Regions from separate parts of the Homo sapiens genome. Here region 2 is reported to be linked to region 1. The links are microRNA targets in miRTarBase. Many come from high-throughput screens and were not tested one by one. Region 1 holds a microRNA gene; the other region holds the end of a gene's coding sequence.
Evidence for each region. Region 1 holds the annotated microRNA hsa-miR-1468-3p (AGCAAAAUAAGCAAAUGGAAAA, at 4,823-4,844, shown strand). A microRNA usually pairs through its seed, bases 2 to 8, with sites in the 3' UTR of a target mRNA and lowers its output. Matches are read on the target gene's strand: a 7mer-m8 pairs with bases 2 to 8, a 7mer-A1 pairs with bases 2 to 7 and ends in A, and an 8mer does both.

Region 1 (8,195 bases):
CATCACCTGCACATTTACCCATTTTCTCTTCTTGTCTGCTAGAGTTCAGGAAGTGATTTTGCTCCTATCAAGGCAAATCTTTTTTGCTCTGGAATCCATCCCCTCTCACTTTCTGAAGGACTTTGCTCCTGCAGGTATCCCCTCTCTTAAACCAGTGCTTCTCAAACTTAAATGTACATGCAGATCATCTGAGGATCTAGTTGAAATGTAGATTATGATTAAGTAGATGTGGGATGGGGCTTGAGGTTCTACATTTCTAACAAACACCCAGGTGATGATGTTGTTGTTGGTTTGTCGACCATGCTTCAACTAGCAAGGTCTTATGTGATAAGCCTTTCCTCTCATTCCCATCATTATATCAATATGTCCTTATTTGCATGTTAAAAGAATAAAAAGGACTTCCTTGACCTCACATCCCCTTCCAAATATTGTCTTGTCTTATTCCCTTCACAGGAGAACTTCTCAAAGTGTTGTCTACACTCATTGTCTCTACTTGTTTACTTTTGCTCACTCTTTACTCCCTTCATTCACTCCTCTACCCCTCCAATATGATCTTTCTTACTCTCATGCCAGTGAAGCTACTTTTGTCAAAATCACCAACCTTGTTGCCAGTACAATGGGCATATCATTTAACTTTTCAACATTTCACACACCTAGTCTTGAAACATTCACCTGAATATGATTTATCCTCGTTTTATTTTTACCTTATTGGCCACTGCTTCTCAGTCTCTATAGATAAATCTCTCCTTCTCTGTGGAACTTTTATCTAATTGTTAAGAACCTCAGGATTTGTCCAGGGCCCTTTTTAAAATCTATGTTCCCTCCTAGATGATTACATCCTGTCTTGGGACTTTAAATATCATAAATATGAGGAAGACTCCAAAATGTGTATGTCCAGCTAGATCTTCTCTCCTGAGCTCCAGGCTTTCATATCTAGTTGTCTTCCTGACATCCCCTCTAATAATATAACTATTGGGCAGCTCACTCTCAATACATTCAAATGGAAGTCTTGAGTTTTTTCCCTCTTCAAACCCGAGCTTATGCCAGTCTCCCCACATTAGCCAAAGTGCCACCATCTACCCAGTATTGCAAACCAAAAACCTAAAGTTTTCTGGAATTTCTTCATTTTTTTCCCTCACACTCCACATCCAATCCATCATCAAGCTCTGTTATTTCTATCTCTAAAATATATCTCAAATCTTTTTACCTCTGTCCATCATCTTTACTGTTCTTCCAGTCCAAGTCACCATCATCTTTCCCCTGTAAAAACAACAGTTTTTTAAAAGACAATGTAAATCTTTTAAAAATGTAAATCGGATCAGTTAATTCTCCTGCTTAAAAATCCCTCAGTTCCCACGCCTCTCTCCCTGTAGTTCATAGAATAAATCCAGATTGTTTTACTATGGTCTTCAAGGCTTTATATGACCTGGCTTCTGTCAAATTTGTCTCCTATCATTCTCCCTCTTTCTTTCTAGGTTTCAGCCTCATTGCGCTTCTAATTCCTGCAACATTACATGCCAGTTCAATCCTTTGGGCTTCTGTACTTTCTGTTTTCTGTGCCTGGAATACTTTCCCCCTACCTCTTACATGGCTGGCTCGCCTTAAGCCTTTAGGCCTTAATTTGAATACCTTCTCCTTGGAGAAGCCTTCCTTATCTAAACTCCCTTTCCTCCCCCAGAGTTACTCTATCCCTTCACTTTCTTTCTTTTATAGCACTTATCACCATCTGTATTAGCACATTTGCTTACCAGATTTAGTTGTTTATTGAATAGAAATGAGGGCATGAACTCTGTCCATCTTGTTCACTGCTATGGCATCAGTGCTTAACATACTATACCTGGCACATTGTAGGCACACATATTTATTGATTTTATGAATAAATAAAAATAGGTAGTAATGTATGTACGAAATATTGCTTTGTAAAGATAAGAGTTTATAATATACACGTTAGTCTTGGGCCTCCAATATTTGGAATTATAGTAGTTGTGTCCTTTCAGTATTTACCCGTTTTCACTACTGCACTCCACTCACTGGAGAATCAAGGGTTTGAGTTTTTATCCCAGCTCAGCCACTAACTTACTTTGTGACTTTGGGAGCTCCTTCCATTCCCTGGGGCTATATCTTCTCATCAGTAAAATGAGACTGTTGGAGGAAATAATCTTTACAATTATTAAGGCCAACTCTGATATCTATGGATCAGTGATTCTTTAACACTCTTAGGTACACAATTAGTGTGTTCATTGTATGACTGGAGAACCTGAGTCACAGATAAGCTGGGACATGACTGTCTTTCTCTTCATTTTGCTCATGGCCCTCTACTAGAGTGGAGAGCTGGTGCCTGGCTAGGTACCAAAGAGGCTTCTGGGAGATCACAGGACTTCAAGAGAGTGAACACAGAGATTATGGAAACCCCTTTTCCAGATTTCTATTGTCCTGTCCTGAATTCTTACTGGCTTCCAGGCCCTGTGCTAAGTACTTTCCTTGGACAAATTTATCAAATCTTTGTAACTATCTTGTCAGCCCTATTCACAGATAAAGAAACTGTCAGGGCATAGAACATTGAATAATCTGCCCAAGTAAGTGGCAAAGCCAATAACTGAATACAATCCAAGTTGTTCTGACTTCAGAGATTATGCCCTACCAACTACATTATGTCTCCTCTAACTACTCATATGGTTCTAGGCAAATAGGTGCTCAAGACATAATGACTGGATTCAACAGCATCTATTTACACCTCTGGGATCAACACGTTTTTTGCAGGAGTCTCTAGGCACCTGTTTTTTGCAGGAGTCCCTAGGCTTTATATTAACACTGGCCTGTTTGCATCCAGATCCATTCTCCACTCTTCTCCTGAAAATTACATTTGTTAGATTTCCTTGCTTTCTCACTTCTTTTGTCCAATGGGAGACATGTACAGGAGATTGGTGGCTAGGAGGAAGGGAGAACCCAGGGTATTTCTCCCACCACCTGTATCAGAGAGGTGTTTTCTGGTGGTAGCTGTATTCCTCCATGGCTCCAGCTCCTCTTGAACAACTCTTCCATTCATGGCACCTGCTTCCAATAGGCTGTCCAACCCATGATTTTAGCTTCTGCATGGCTTCATCTGTTATCCGTCCATCCCTACGAGTGGTAGCAGCTTTCTGTGTTTGTTAAATGCTAGGTTGCTGCATCCTCATCCTCTGTCTGGCTTGTTAGCTCTGTAAGTGTCATGCATTAAATGCTCGCAGTTTAAAAGACCTAGGGTGGTTTTTATTTTCCTGATTGGACCATGACCGGCACAGATACTTTCCACAATTCCAGGGCTACTCACATCACATAAATTGGTTTATATCCTTCAGAGCACATATTACAATCTCTAAATATTTTTGTTTGTTTACTTATTTATTGTCTATCTCTCTTCTGTAAGTAGATTGTAAGGTCCATGAGGAACTTTGTCTTGTATCCTGAGCATCTGTCACAATGCCTGGCACACAGGGGCTAAATGATAATGTTGAATGAATGCATCCATCAAAAAATTCCAAGTTTTTATTGGGTATTTACTATGTGCCAGTCACTGTTGTAGAAGATGCAGAAATTAGTAATTCATTGCCACTGCTTCAAAAACACATAATGCCATTTAAGTGAAAGGGGACAGTAAAATGTTCATATGACCATTGTGTTAGTTCGCTAGGGCTGTGCCATAACAAAATACCACAGACTCTGTGGCTTAAACAACAGAAATTGAGTTTCTTATAATCCTGGAGGCCAGAAGTCTGAGAACAAGGTATCAGTGGGGTTGGGTCTTCTGAGGCCTCTCTCCTTGGCTTGCTGTTTAGATGACTGTCTTCTCCGAGTCATCAGATTCTGAGGTACTGGAAGGACTTCAACATATAAATTTTGGGGGAAAACAATTCAGCCCGTAACATCCAGGAAATAAAAAGATCATTTTTAATCGAGACAGTGAAATCGTAGTGCTATAGGAATCAAATGAAAGATGACAAAATCAGGGCCTGGAGGTATTCCTGGAAAGCTTTCTAAAGGTGGTGTGCCTGGTGCCAGATCTTGAACAGTCATGACAGTTTGAATGGGCTGGTTGGCAGGGGAGGTGCATCCAAGATACTGAGCATGAAAGAAGGCCCAGAGATGGGAAAGTGAGAGAACATTGTGGAATCACTGATGCCTGGGTTACCAGACTTGGGAGGGAAGTTGAAAGGTCATCCAGGGCAACCTCCCATTTGATTCAGGAATCCCTTGCCAAAGGGTCATTCAGCTTCTGCTTGTACACCTCCCATGATGGGGTGCTCATTAAGGTACTGCTTCTATCTTTGCCCAGCTCTGCATGGACAAAACAACAGGTTGGATGAAGTGCAGAAGTTGTGCTAAAAAGAAGAGGACAAATAAAGTACGTGTAACAGGCCAGTGATGTCTTCATGTCAATTATCTCCAGGAACTTCTTTCTAATATCATACTGTAACTCCTTTTACTTTGGTTGCAACCTCTGTTTTTGCAATTCTGTCTTTGCCTGACCTGCTCTTCTAGTCAGGAGCCTTGGATTCTTGTCTTGTTTGGCTGTGCTACTTTAAGCAGAAGTCTTTCAATCTCTGGGCTTCAGTGTTCAAGTCTGTAATGGTGGGCAATTAAGAATCCTTGTTGTGTCCATCTCATAGAGTTACTGTGAGGATTATAAGGGATAATAACAGATGTTAGTGTGACTGACAAAGTCAATTTTTAGCCTAAGCAAAGGTACCAGCCTGTGTTGTGTTCCCCAGAGTTGGGGGAATCATAAAGAGGTGGGTGGTTTCTCCGTTTGCCTGTTTCGCTGATGTGCATTCAACTCATTCTCAGCAAAATAAGCAAATGGAAAATTCGTCCATCAACAAGCTACCTTTCATGTTCCTAAGGGCATGAAGGAGAAGCCTGGAGTGGTGTGTGTGAGATAGAAAGGGAGAGATAGCCGAAAGAGGCTTGGAAAGCCGCAGAGGGTAAAGTCGAGGATTTATCTTTTTTTTTTCTTTAATGTGACCTTATGCCCCTTCCCTCTTCCAAACCTCCATTTATTTATCTATAACTTGGAGATACTAATGGCTGCCTCTACAGGGTTGTTCTGAGAAGTGAAAGTAATGCAGATGAAAGCTCTCAGATAGTACACAAAGAGAGAAGACCCTAGGGGAGTATGCAGAGGGAGGGTGGGGGAGGGAGGCATGAGAGTGCTGGCTTGGCTCCACTGGGGCAGGATCTTATTATTCTGGAGATTGGCACAACACCTCTGGTAACTTTGGAAAGGACTTTCCGCTGACTCGACACAATTGGGAAGCCCCACAATAAACAGCATCTAACTCCAGCGCAGCGGGAGGCAGGCAGAGGTAGCAGCTGCCTTCTCCTGGGCGGGCGGAGGCTATTCGCCCCCATCCTCTCCCTGCACCCCACCCCCACAGTTCTCAAGCCTTGGTGGGGGACAAAAGCAGCCCATTAGGACCCCCCCACACTCGCACCTCTCCCTGCCAAGACCTCTAGGAGCAGCAGGGCGGAGAGACAGAGCCTGCCGGTTGGCATGGAACAAACTGACTGAAGGCGAGGTCCGGGGCGGAGGGGATTGGGTTGTAGGGCTGTGGAGGAGGGGCGGCGGAGGGGGCGCTGGGGCTCTCGCTTGCTTCAGCCCAGCCCTTCTAGTCAGCCCGCGACAACTCGCGCCAGCTACGGGGCCTCAGAGAAGCCGGACTTCGCAAGCACCATGCAGTGGATAAGGGGCGGATCGGGAATGGTGAGTGCATGTAACCTTGGCTTCCCTTGCTTGAGCCTCTCAGTCCCCCAGCCCCACCTCCAGTTCCTCCAACGAGCCACAAGGCAGTGAGCACCCTGGCCTCTGCCCACCGCCCTAGCCGCCGTCCTTGAGACACCAGTGAGCTTGCTGTGGCCATTTTAGGAGTCCCTGCTAGCCTGCCTGCCCAGGAAACCCCCCTACCATCCCCCTCCACTTTTCTATCTCCCTCTGAGATTAAGGTGGAATAGGGGTGGGGGCCAGATTATGTGCCCAGGAACATCCCAGGGGTCACTTGGGAGGCCAGAGAGGGAAGGGGGATGGCAGAGGGCTTCTCTGGAAGCAGTGAAGCTCGCAGGAGGCTGACAAGCTGGCACGGGGTTGTGGGGGGAGGGGACGGTCACAAAGCCTGGAATTGTGGAGGGGGCCTTATGGGAGAGCTGCATGACTCCCCCCTGCCCCCAACTAGATTTTCTGCAACTCCTTTCCCTGGTCAGCCCCAGAGCATGAGGGCCAGAGAGCCACTCTCTCTCTCTCAGGAAGCTGCCTGAGGGAGCCCTAAAGCCCTTCCTTGTCCGGGCTGGGGTCACCCTGTCCACACTTGGGGCTTTGTCAAGGAGAGACAGCTGCAGAAACCCACATTCTGGAAATGGGCTTGGGCCACAGTCAGTTAACAGAGCTCTTCTCTCCCTCCCAAGGAGTGTGTGCTTGTGTGTGTGTTTAGTATAATCCTCCAACAGTTCATTTTATGCCATGGTGTTCCCTTCTCCACCTGGAGACCTTGGAATGACTTCCTTTTGCAGAGAGGAAGTGGTGGCTGCATTTTGATGCCTCTCTGACTTAGCCAGGAGCAGCTTAAGCCTGGTTAGGGCCTCTGGGGAGTGGGAGGCCCCCATGACTTTGTCCTCAGCTGGGAGGCATAAGCAAAAGGGCCTTAGAAGGCAGTTAGGTTGGGTCAGCAGGCACTGATGGCAATAGCCCACACTTCTACGCTGCCACCCATAACCCGCAGATGAAGGAAAGTAGCCTGAAGTGGTTGGGCAAAAACTGATATTTAACTCCATTTTTGCTTTCATTGTGGAGGGGAAGAGGGAATCTGGTGTGGGCTAGGACTATATTCAGAGGGGCTGTCCTCTTCCCTTCCTCAGAGTTTTGTTAGATCTCTGTTTCAGTGGTTCTTAAGGGCATCCGGTTCATATGCCTATGTGCTGGGGCTTCAAAAGACCCTTCTTCCCAGACCTCCCTACTTCCCTGAGGTCCCATTAAAGCTGCATCAAATGTTTGTAGAACCAGAAAAGATTAGAGCAGGTAAAGACCTTAGAGTCCTTGCTGTCCAGCCAGGAAAGCTGGGATCCAGAGAGTGGGAGAGACTTGCCCAGGACCACAAACTCCTTGGAGGCAAAGCTGAGTCTAGCACTTGAGTCTCCTGACTGCCACAGTCCTTCCCCACTGCTCCACCAATCATTTGCTCAAATGGTGCTGAGAGGGGAAGAAAGGAACATAGTCATGATCTTGGGAAAGGACTTTCTTCAGGATGATCTAGTGCCATTAAATTTACCTGAAAGCCGGGCGCGGCCGCCCACGCCTGTAATCCCAGCACTTTGGGAGGCCGAGGCGGGTGGATCATCTGAGGTCGGGAGCTCAAGAACAGCCTGACCAACGTGGAGAAACCCCGTCTCTACTAAAAAGACAAAATTAGCTGGACGTAGTGGCACATGCCTGAGGCTGAGGCAGGAGAATCACTCGAACCCAGGAGGGGGAGGTTGCGGTGAGCCGAGATTGTGCCGTTGCAGTCCAGCCTGAGCAACAAGAGCGAAACTCCATCTCAAAAAAAAAAAAAAAAAATTACCCGAAAAAAATCCATGCCAGTCCTGGCATTTCTGGCAACTGGGAACTGGGTCAGGGTGAGACTTACTTCCTCTCCCAAATATATTGAAGTATAGGGGCCCAGAGCCACTCATTGACAACAGGTTAAATTAATGAAGAAATTTGAAGTTTTGCCAACAGTGTATGAGAGAGAAAAGGGTGGCAGACATCTTGTGGAGACTGTGTAATTAAGGATTGGTTGATGGGGAAAAATCTCATAATATTCTTAGAGGACTGAGACAATGAATATTATATGATGAAAGCATTTATTTAGCTGTTTACCAGAATTCAAGAGATGGGAGTAGTAAACTCTATTCTTGCCTGAGAGGCAGGGAACCTCTAAGTTTTGGCCTTGCCACTAACAGAAATCCTTTGGGCCTCAGATTTCTTACCTATTAAATGCGGATGTTAATAAGCACCAAAATTCCTTCTAGGCCTTAGATTCTCAGATTCCTAGAAGTATGTGTTGGATAAAATTTAACTAGTGGCTCATTACGAACAAATAGGGATTGTGTATCTAGCCACCATTTTATAACGTGGCTAGCTGAAAGATCTTTGCTCCTTGTTCTTTCGTTTGCAAGGTGCCCGAAGT
Region 2 (8,195 bases), not on the chromosome of region 1:
TATTTCACAGTGGCAGTAGCAGGCAGTGTGAAAATGTTGGTTGAGTAAATGAATAGTACGGCCAGGAGAACTGTAGATTTAGCACACATCAGATTACTAGTTAAGAGAAACTCACTGTACTGGAGATCCTGGCCTCGGTGTATTCGTTGGCCTCCTGTTCTTTTATTACATTTTGAAACAGGAGTGTTATTTGATTAGTTTTGAGATGAGTGGATTAGAGCTGAGTTGAGCAAAGGTTGCTTTCTCTGAAGCATTCATCTTAGGACAGTGACCTGCTTTCCAAAAGGCAGAGCTCAGACTGTACCATATTTCCAAGGATCTCTATTTCTAGGCAAAATTCTGAAAATTTTTTGCAAACAATAGGCAGCTTAGAATTAACAGTGTTTATAAGGAAATGATGAGATATCATTCTTAGGGGCTCAGGTTGTCCCTTCCCCTTTGGAATGACATGGATTAATGTCTATACCCGGTGGCTGGCAGTTTTGCAGTCTACTGTGGAGACTGAGCTGGGCAGTAAGTTCTGCTGGCATCTGGGCCAGGACTCACTTCTGTGTTCCTAGCAGGTGGAATCCACAACTGTTGCTACAAGACGATTAAGTGGCTTCCTGAGGACACTTGCAGACCGGCTGGAGGGCACCAAAGAACTGCTTTCCTCAGACATGAAGAAGGATTTTATTATGCACAGACTCCCCCCTTACTCTGCGGGAGATGGGGCAGAGCTGTCAACACCAGGTGGAGCTTGCTGTTTTCTTCTGGGTGGTCAGAGGCTAATGCAGGATGTTTACGGTTTTTCTGGGTAGGCTCCTTTTTGAACAGATGGAAAGTATGAAGTGCTTTCGTGTTAATGTGGACCACATCCATCCTTAGTGAATATGGGCAGACGAGATGTGCTGCACTCAACCTTTAGCAACCTGTATCTTAGAAGTCATTTGGAAAGAACTTGTATCCCACCCTGATGGGAAATAAGAGCCCTGTCCTTTTGGGTGAGAAATATGTATATTTATAGGTACTCTGGTATTCATAGTCTTCAGGAAGTTTTCAAAATTTGAACATTGAAATAATCTTGTTGGAATTAAGTCAGGGTTGGGTTGTCTTTATTTGTGTTGCTTAAAGGAATACCTGAGGCTGGGTAATTTATATAGAAAAGAAGTTTATTTGGCTCATGGTCTGCAGGCTGTACAAGAAGCATGGTGCTGGTATCTGCATTTGGAGAAAACCTCAGGCTACTCACAGTGGAAGGGGAAAGGGAGCTGGCATTTGCAGAACACATGGTGAGAGAGGAAGCAAGAGCGAGGAGAAGTGCCAGGCTCTTTTTAACACCAGCTGTCATGGGAACTAATGGAACAAGAAGTCACTCACCGCCCCCAACCCCAGGGAATTATCTATTCATGAGGGATCTGCTCCCCACAATGTGACCCAAACACCTCCCCTTAGGCTGCACCTCCACACTGGGGATCAAATTTGAACATGAGATTTGGATGGGACAAACATCCAAATCATAGCATGGGTAAAATTGTTACCATCAGCCAGTGAGATTCAAGAAATGTCCAAGATTATCATCAACCTTCTCCAAGGCACAGGTGCCTAATTTATGACAGATTTAGGCTGCAAATGATATAACATACTTTTGGATGGATGATGTCATTGATGACTTCCAGATGGATGATGTCAGTATCCTATAGCAAAGACCACCAAGAACATACTCCTGAATTCAGACGAAATTGGATTTATTGACTTGTTGCAGTGGGAAGACCACACACCATTGAGAACTGCAGGGCATCTCAGTAAAACGGTGTTAGAAAAGACTTATAGGACTCAGGTGTATGTTAGGTGATTTTGGAGAGGGTTCAAGGAAGCAGGGCTTTGCTCTGGATTGGATGCTGTCAGGAAATGGAAGGGATTCTATGATTAAGTCTCCTAAATGTTATCTGGTAGGCAGGAGGAATGTATGAGGCTGAAGTTATCAATGGTAAAGCGGAAGTGGTCACTCATTAGCCAGAGTAGGGGGATGTTCGGTCAGTGTTGTGGTTTGGAATATGTTCTTGCCTTGCCTGAGTCCAGACATGAGTATGTACGGAGTGGTGGTGTTTTGTTTTGACCTATCATGGTGACAGTGATCTCTGATGTTAGCATTCTGTGGAATTGCCTGTGTTCAACAGGAGAACACAAAGACCTAGCTGTGAGTGCCAGGCCAGCTTTTTGGCTGCTGTTCTTTCTCAGGGTTGAGTGAAAAGAGTATTTTTTACTAACTTTAATAAAACTCTTAATTATGACCAAGAGAGAACCACTGAGATAGATAATCTATAAGGTCCCTTCCAACACTGATTCTATATACATTTTTATCATAGTCTTTGGAGGAAGCTTAGAATTTGTTTTTGATTGTATCTATTCAAAATAGCAAATGTTTTACAAGCACATGGTTTAATCTTTAGCAGAACAGTTTGCTTATGCACCAGCTTATGGCCCAGACTACTTCAGTGTTTTCCTTATCTTAGGCATTATACTCAATAAAGTGATGATCCCTCACGACTCCTTCCCCACGCAGATGACCCTGTAAGGCTAGTCTGTTTTTATTGGGTATTGTTCCACTAAGTTAAATCCAATTTGGAAAAAAAAAATTTTCTGTGGACTTTATTAGATGGCTTTTATAGGATACTATTCTTGACTTACATAGACTGAATAATTGACCAGGGTCACACACCTAATAATTGGTGGAGTAGTGCAATTTTGAACTCAGGTAGTACTTCCAGAGTCCATATGTTGAGCGAGAAGCTTGTAGAGGACAGAACCTGGAGGAGTGAGTGTTCTGTGCAGAAAGCACCACAGCCTTATGTGCTATGATAGCCACTGTACTTCGATGGTATTATTTTTGTCTATTTATTGTACTTATAAACTTACATTATTTATCTATGTCTGTCTTCACTGTAAGAATGAGCTGCATAATGATGTGAACTATAATATCAGTACAATGTTGGGGTAAGCAAATTCTTCAGTTGGAGTGTATGCCATGTTTGGATTCACCTGTAAATTGTTAGTAAATGTGTTTCCTATGTGTATGTATAAGCAAGTTTGAATCTGCCTGTTTCCTTTTTTGAAGGTCGGCTTTCTCTCTTTGGGGTTTTCTAGGTGGAAAGTTACCGAGGCTGGACAGTGTAGTGAGACTGCAGTTTAAAGACCACATTGTCCTCACAGTACTGCCGGATCAAGATCAATCTGTGAGTATCCAAGAGGAGGAGATTTCCTGTCTTCTCAGGGTGTTTTTCATCAGAGGCCTCAGGTTATTAGATTAACCACTGGTCTCTGCCCTTCTTTAGGAATCCACCTGCATTCAGTTTAATGCCATTTCTTCAGGTCAGATGATGACCAAATCTCACAGTTCCAATTCCATATTTTCTTGCCCTCATCCTCACAGAACCTTCCTTCATCCCCTTTATGTGGTGATTAATGTCTGGTCTTTGCTTCTCATCCTACTTCGGGCCTTACTGTTCTTGCTTGGACAGCCACAGACCTCATTCCTGAGTTTCTCAGCCCCAGTCCTCCACACTGTGCAGATCTATATTTCTATGTGGTTTTGTGGATATTGTTGCATCTCCTTAAACTCTATCCTGTAGATTATGGAGAACAAAGTATATATTCTGTAATTTTGCTTCCTAGCCCAGTGATTCCCCAAACTGGCTAACTGATCATGGAGTCAATTGGAAAGCTTTTTAAAATTATAAATTCCTGGGTTTCATCTGGTCTTGGAGCCTTTGGATTTATGTTTTGATAGAGCTCCCTGTACAGTCCTAAAGACCTTGGAACGATCTCATACCATATGGCTCCACCTCATTCCTCCTAATCAGCTCTCTAAGGAGCTATCCCATGAATGATCAAGGGGGATGAGAGGGGCACTCAACATGTCTCGATAACCAGATTGTTCCAGCCGTCAGGGCCAGAGTTGGAATATATATATGAATATACATGAATAGATATATATATATATATATATACATCCTCAAAAGTACACATTCCTACATCCCTGTCTAAAAAAAAAATAGTGATTCTGATAACCAGTCAGTTTGAGACATTGTACGCTAGGCTAAGATTTTTTTGCCCTTATCTAAGAGGTGACAAAGAATGACTAAAGGCTCTGGAAGAGACAATAAACTGCACTGTGTAACATGGGGAGTGAAGGGAGATAGGGACCATTTGGGAGGGTAGTGTAATTGAAATGGAGTTTTTTATCGATCACACAGCTGGTATTTCTCAGGAGTTAATGACTTCATGATTATAAATTGTCAGTTTATACCTAGAAATGTCAGATTTTTTTATTCAAAAAAGATAGTGCAGGTATGATTAAAAAAACTGAGGATTTCATTGATAAGTTGATACATAAATCACTGCTTTTTCATTAAATCCTGAAGATGCTCTTCCAGGTAGCACTCCAGCTGTTTTAACAACTTAGAATGCCCATTAATTGCCACATACAAATAGTAACCTGTGGTGACTAATGAAGTATAGACATTGTGTGGATGCACACACCCGTCACTTTTTGCCAAAAGGATTCTTTACAGTATTCAATAAATTTCACTTGAGCACCAAGGCTTTTGAAATTTTTTTTGGTGTTGACCTATTGGAAAACCTTCCTAGTACTGACACCTTCAGTGTTGTGTTGTTGATGGCCTAATGCATTTATTTTTTCCCCAAAGGATGAAGCTCAAGAAAAGATGGTGTACATCTATCATTCCTTAAAGAATAGTAGAGAGACACACATGATGGGAAATGAGGAGGAAACAGAGGTTTGTTTCAACTGAAAACAAATGCCTATCCTGTGACTTGGGTGGTGGTTGGGAAGAATTGATTATTTTTGATTTACAGGTAATATGCTTTTTATGGCTGCACTGTGGACTTAACCATTTTGCACTACTCACAGAGCTCCTGCATGGGGATGATTAAGTCAGACATTTCTGTGATACATGCACACCAGTTTTAAGACATACTAGCTGGGACCTGTAGCCTTATAGGAATGGTATAATGTAAAACATTTCAAATTACTAATATCACTTACTACATAAATTAGGATGCCTTTTATATAGAAGTTGGCATCTTTTATGTTATCTAATTGTAGTGTGTCTAAAATACTCATGAGGGGTATCAAAAATAATGATGTATGGAGAATAAATTTACAGGAAAATGCTACTTCAATGACATAAGTAGTATACATATATTTTGACAAATAAATTTATCCTTTCAGTTTCATGGACTTCGCTTCCCTTTGTCACATTTGGATGCACTGAAGCAAATTTGGAATAGTCCAGCTATTTCTGTCAAGGACCTGAAACTTACTACAGATGAGGAAAAGGAAAGCCTGGTATTATCCCTCTGGACAGAATGTTTAATTCAAGTAGTCTAGTGCCTTTGCAGAATCAAATGCCTACTATTTTATATGCATATATTAAAAGAAAAGCAAAGACCTGAGCCGAGGAGAGGATGAATTCAAGTTTCCTTACCTGCGTATCTACTAACAAACATGAGACCTCCCTGTTACAGGTGGTCAGTTGGCCAAATGTACTAACGGGCACATGAAAGAAAGAACAGCAAATTACCAAGTGTCTCAGAAAATGACAAAACCATATTTTGACAAGTTTATTTAATCCAGTGTGGTAGAAAAGGCACAATTCCAATGTATCATTTAGAATTGAATGTCATTAACCTGGCTTTGTTCTTTGGAAGAAACAACTTCTTTAAAGAGCTTCTTTGGCTCTAGAAAAATTTCAAACAATTAAAATAAGAAAAAATTTTAAACTGGTTTTTTATAATGAAAATATACATACCTTTGTGTATAGACAAGCCCATGCCCATTAAAATAAAGTTATCCTGTAACATAAATTTTATTAAATAATACTTCCCCACAGATGAGAGGCACGCAACACCTATGGACAAAAGGGAGTTACAGAGGCTGCTTAAAAGATGGAGAAAAGCCTGAGATTGAAGGAGGAAAAAAACCCAGTATTTAAAGTCTATAAAAAATACTCAAAATAGTGGGTCTTCGAGTTTAAAATAGTCATTGTTATTTTACATTCTAAAGTGCATGTAGGTTGATATTTTTTAAAATATCATTGGAGAATTTAATCTTTCTTTATAAAAATAGAGCATTTTTCTGCTTTCTGGCAAAAGTTGGGGATAAAAGGAAAAAAAGTTGTCAAAATGTAATTTTCAGTCCAATTCACCAGGAAAACATGCTTGTGAATTGTGCAGTAAAAGGTGGTAATGACTACTGGAAGCTAAGTCAAAGGTGATTTCCTACCTGATTTTACTTACTTAAATAAAAGTTACTTACAATGGGAGTGAAAAACTGAGGTTTCTGTTATTTAGTAGAGAAATCAACTCCACGTTTACTTAAAGAGATGGTAAGGTCAAGGTTCAAATGCTACTGTGTTTTAATTTGGATATTTGAAATTTCTCTTGAGGCAAAAAAAAAAAAAAATTGATGCCTCTCCTTAAATCTAGGATGAAGTGTCAACATGGAGACAGGTAACCACTGTTATAGAGTCTTGTCACCTAAAGGGATGTCTTGGTTAACACGTAACAGTGCAAGTTTGGCCATAGGTTATTTATTTGTACTTTTTTAGTTTGAAGGACTGAGGAAACAATAGCTACAGAAAATACTTCTTGTGCCTTATTCCTAACAAAGCTGAGGTCCCTGCCTGGGGTTAGTTACAAGTATAAATACTTAACGAGGTGCGTTCATTATAAAAGCCTCAGTATAGAAACCTTAAAGTTTATCTAGGAAAGTTTAGTATATTTTCAGGTGTTGCTAAAAAATTACTCATCTGTTTGCAAAAGTATGACTTGACCTATAGAAATCTGTTTCTTTATGCTTTGTACTCATACAAGCATCTAGGTAGGATATTAATAAATAATACAGGATAATAGCATCACCAGTGTCCAATAACGGGCCATCAGGAACAGGATTCACGTTTGGTGGATATGAGAGAAAATAAACACTTCAGGAAACTTGCTCACCACAGCTGGAGATCAGGAATAGAACCTTTCCAAGATATCATAATATTTTCTTTATAGGAACACTGAGTAATGGCAAGAATATTTTGAGCTTTTCCATGGTTAAGAGCGATAGTCTCAGAGGCTGGAGAAAATGTTCATTCTGCTCAGTGATCCAGGAGTGTGAGGACAGTAGCTTCCTTTCCACGTCCACAAGACAATGACAGATGTGTTTCCTTCTTTGCTCTTTCTAGGGATCTTTCTAGGGATGTTGATTCTCTCACAATATTTCAATGTCCCATTTCTGTGTTTCTTCTCCCTCCAGGGGCTGATTTACAATTACATGAGTCTTGTCACAATAATTTCCTCCTAAAATAGAAATTCCAAAAGAAAAGATTATTTGTTCAGGCAGGTGCTTAGCAATTTCACAATTTTCACAAGCTTCTGTTCAGCTCACCATTTCGGTGGATGAATGTGTCATTTACAAAGAAGTCTGAAATGGGAAGCTGAGTTTGAACAGGCTTAGCCATTATTCACCTCAAATTGGACCTTATTATGACTCAAATTGAAATACTAAAAGGTATAATACATGATTGTATAAGTGGCGTGCCTTAATGTGATTCTTTAGAACAAAGTGCTCTTGAGAGAACTCTGGCTGAATGTCAGGTACTGTGTTTTTGTTTCTACACCAACAAAACTGTGACTAACCCAATTAAAGCAACAGCCATGAATAATATTGGCCCTGACCTTGCTGAATTCAAAAACAAGGTTAATTGATACCTACCATAAATTCTACCTGAGGGTTTTTAAGGACCATGGCAATTCCTGGCAAAAAGCTAGAGATGTTTCTAAGAAACAGATGACATTCATTTCATGGTTTATGGTGCTTGAAATTTAGAACTGTTCTGAGTTCACGTAGCAAATGAAAGTTTTACAACTGTACTAATGAACAAAAACCCTAAGCTTTGTTGTTTGGCTTTTTCTGCTAATTGTTTTGTTTGTAAAACTGCCTATCTTAATTTTCTTCAAGCATAATTTTAAATGACTTAACATTTCTCTTATACATAAGGATGTCCTTTACCCAAAATGAGGAGATTTGGAACTGAAACTAATATCCAGGGACACAACATTGGGTATCATCAAAGGCCCACCTTTAACATCAAGGACAAGTTGATCACTGAGATAAGAGCTGATAGTTCCATTTTTATTCAGTC

Region 2: the mRNA of CRYBG3 is a reported target of hsa-miR-1468-3p. Seed matches in the 3' UTR shown: 7mer-A1 at 6,818-6,824.

The regions. Positions count from the first base shown.
Region 1 is chrX:63,782,661-63,790,855 of GRCh38, reverse strand. It overlaps MIR1468 (microRNA 1468), which reads left to right and starts at 4,769; the gene lies at 4,769-4,854. ARHGEF9 (Cdc42 guanine nucleotide exchange factor 9) reads left to right here and starts at 5,642. Exons shown (of 10, transcript NM_001353921.2): 1 at 5,642-5,740. The coding sequence starts at 5,711.
Region 2 is chr3:97,942,381-97,950,575 of GRCh38, reverse strand. It overlaps CRYBG3 (crystallin beta-gamma domain containing 3), which reads right to left. Exons shown (of 22, transcript NM_153605.4): 21 at 8,133-8,195; 22 at 5,592-7,350. The coding sequence ends at 7,262. RIOX2 (ribosomal oxygenase 2) reads left to right here. Exons shown (of 10, transcript NM_153182.4): 7 at 561-732; 8 at 3,127-3,215; 9 at 4,689-4,778; 10 at 5,234-8,195. The coding sequence ends at 5,392. Among named protein-coding and RNA genes, the nearest start is that of RIOX2, 26 kb to the left of the region's middle.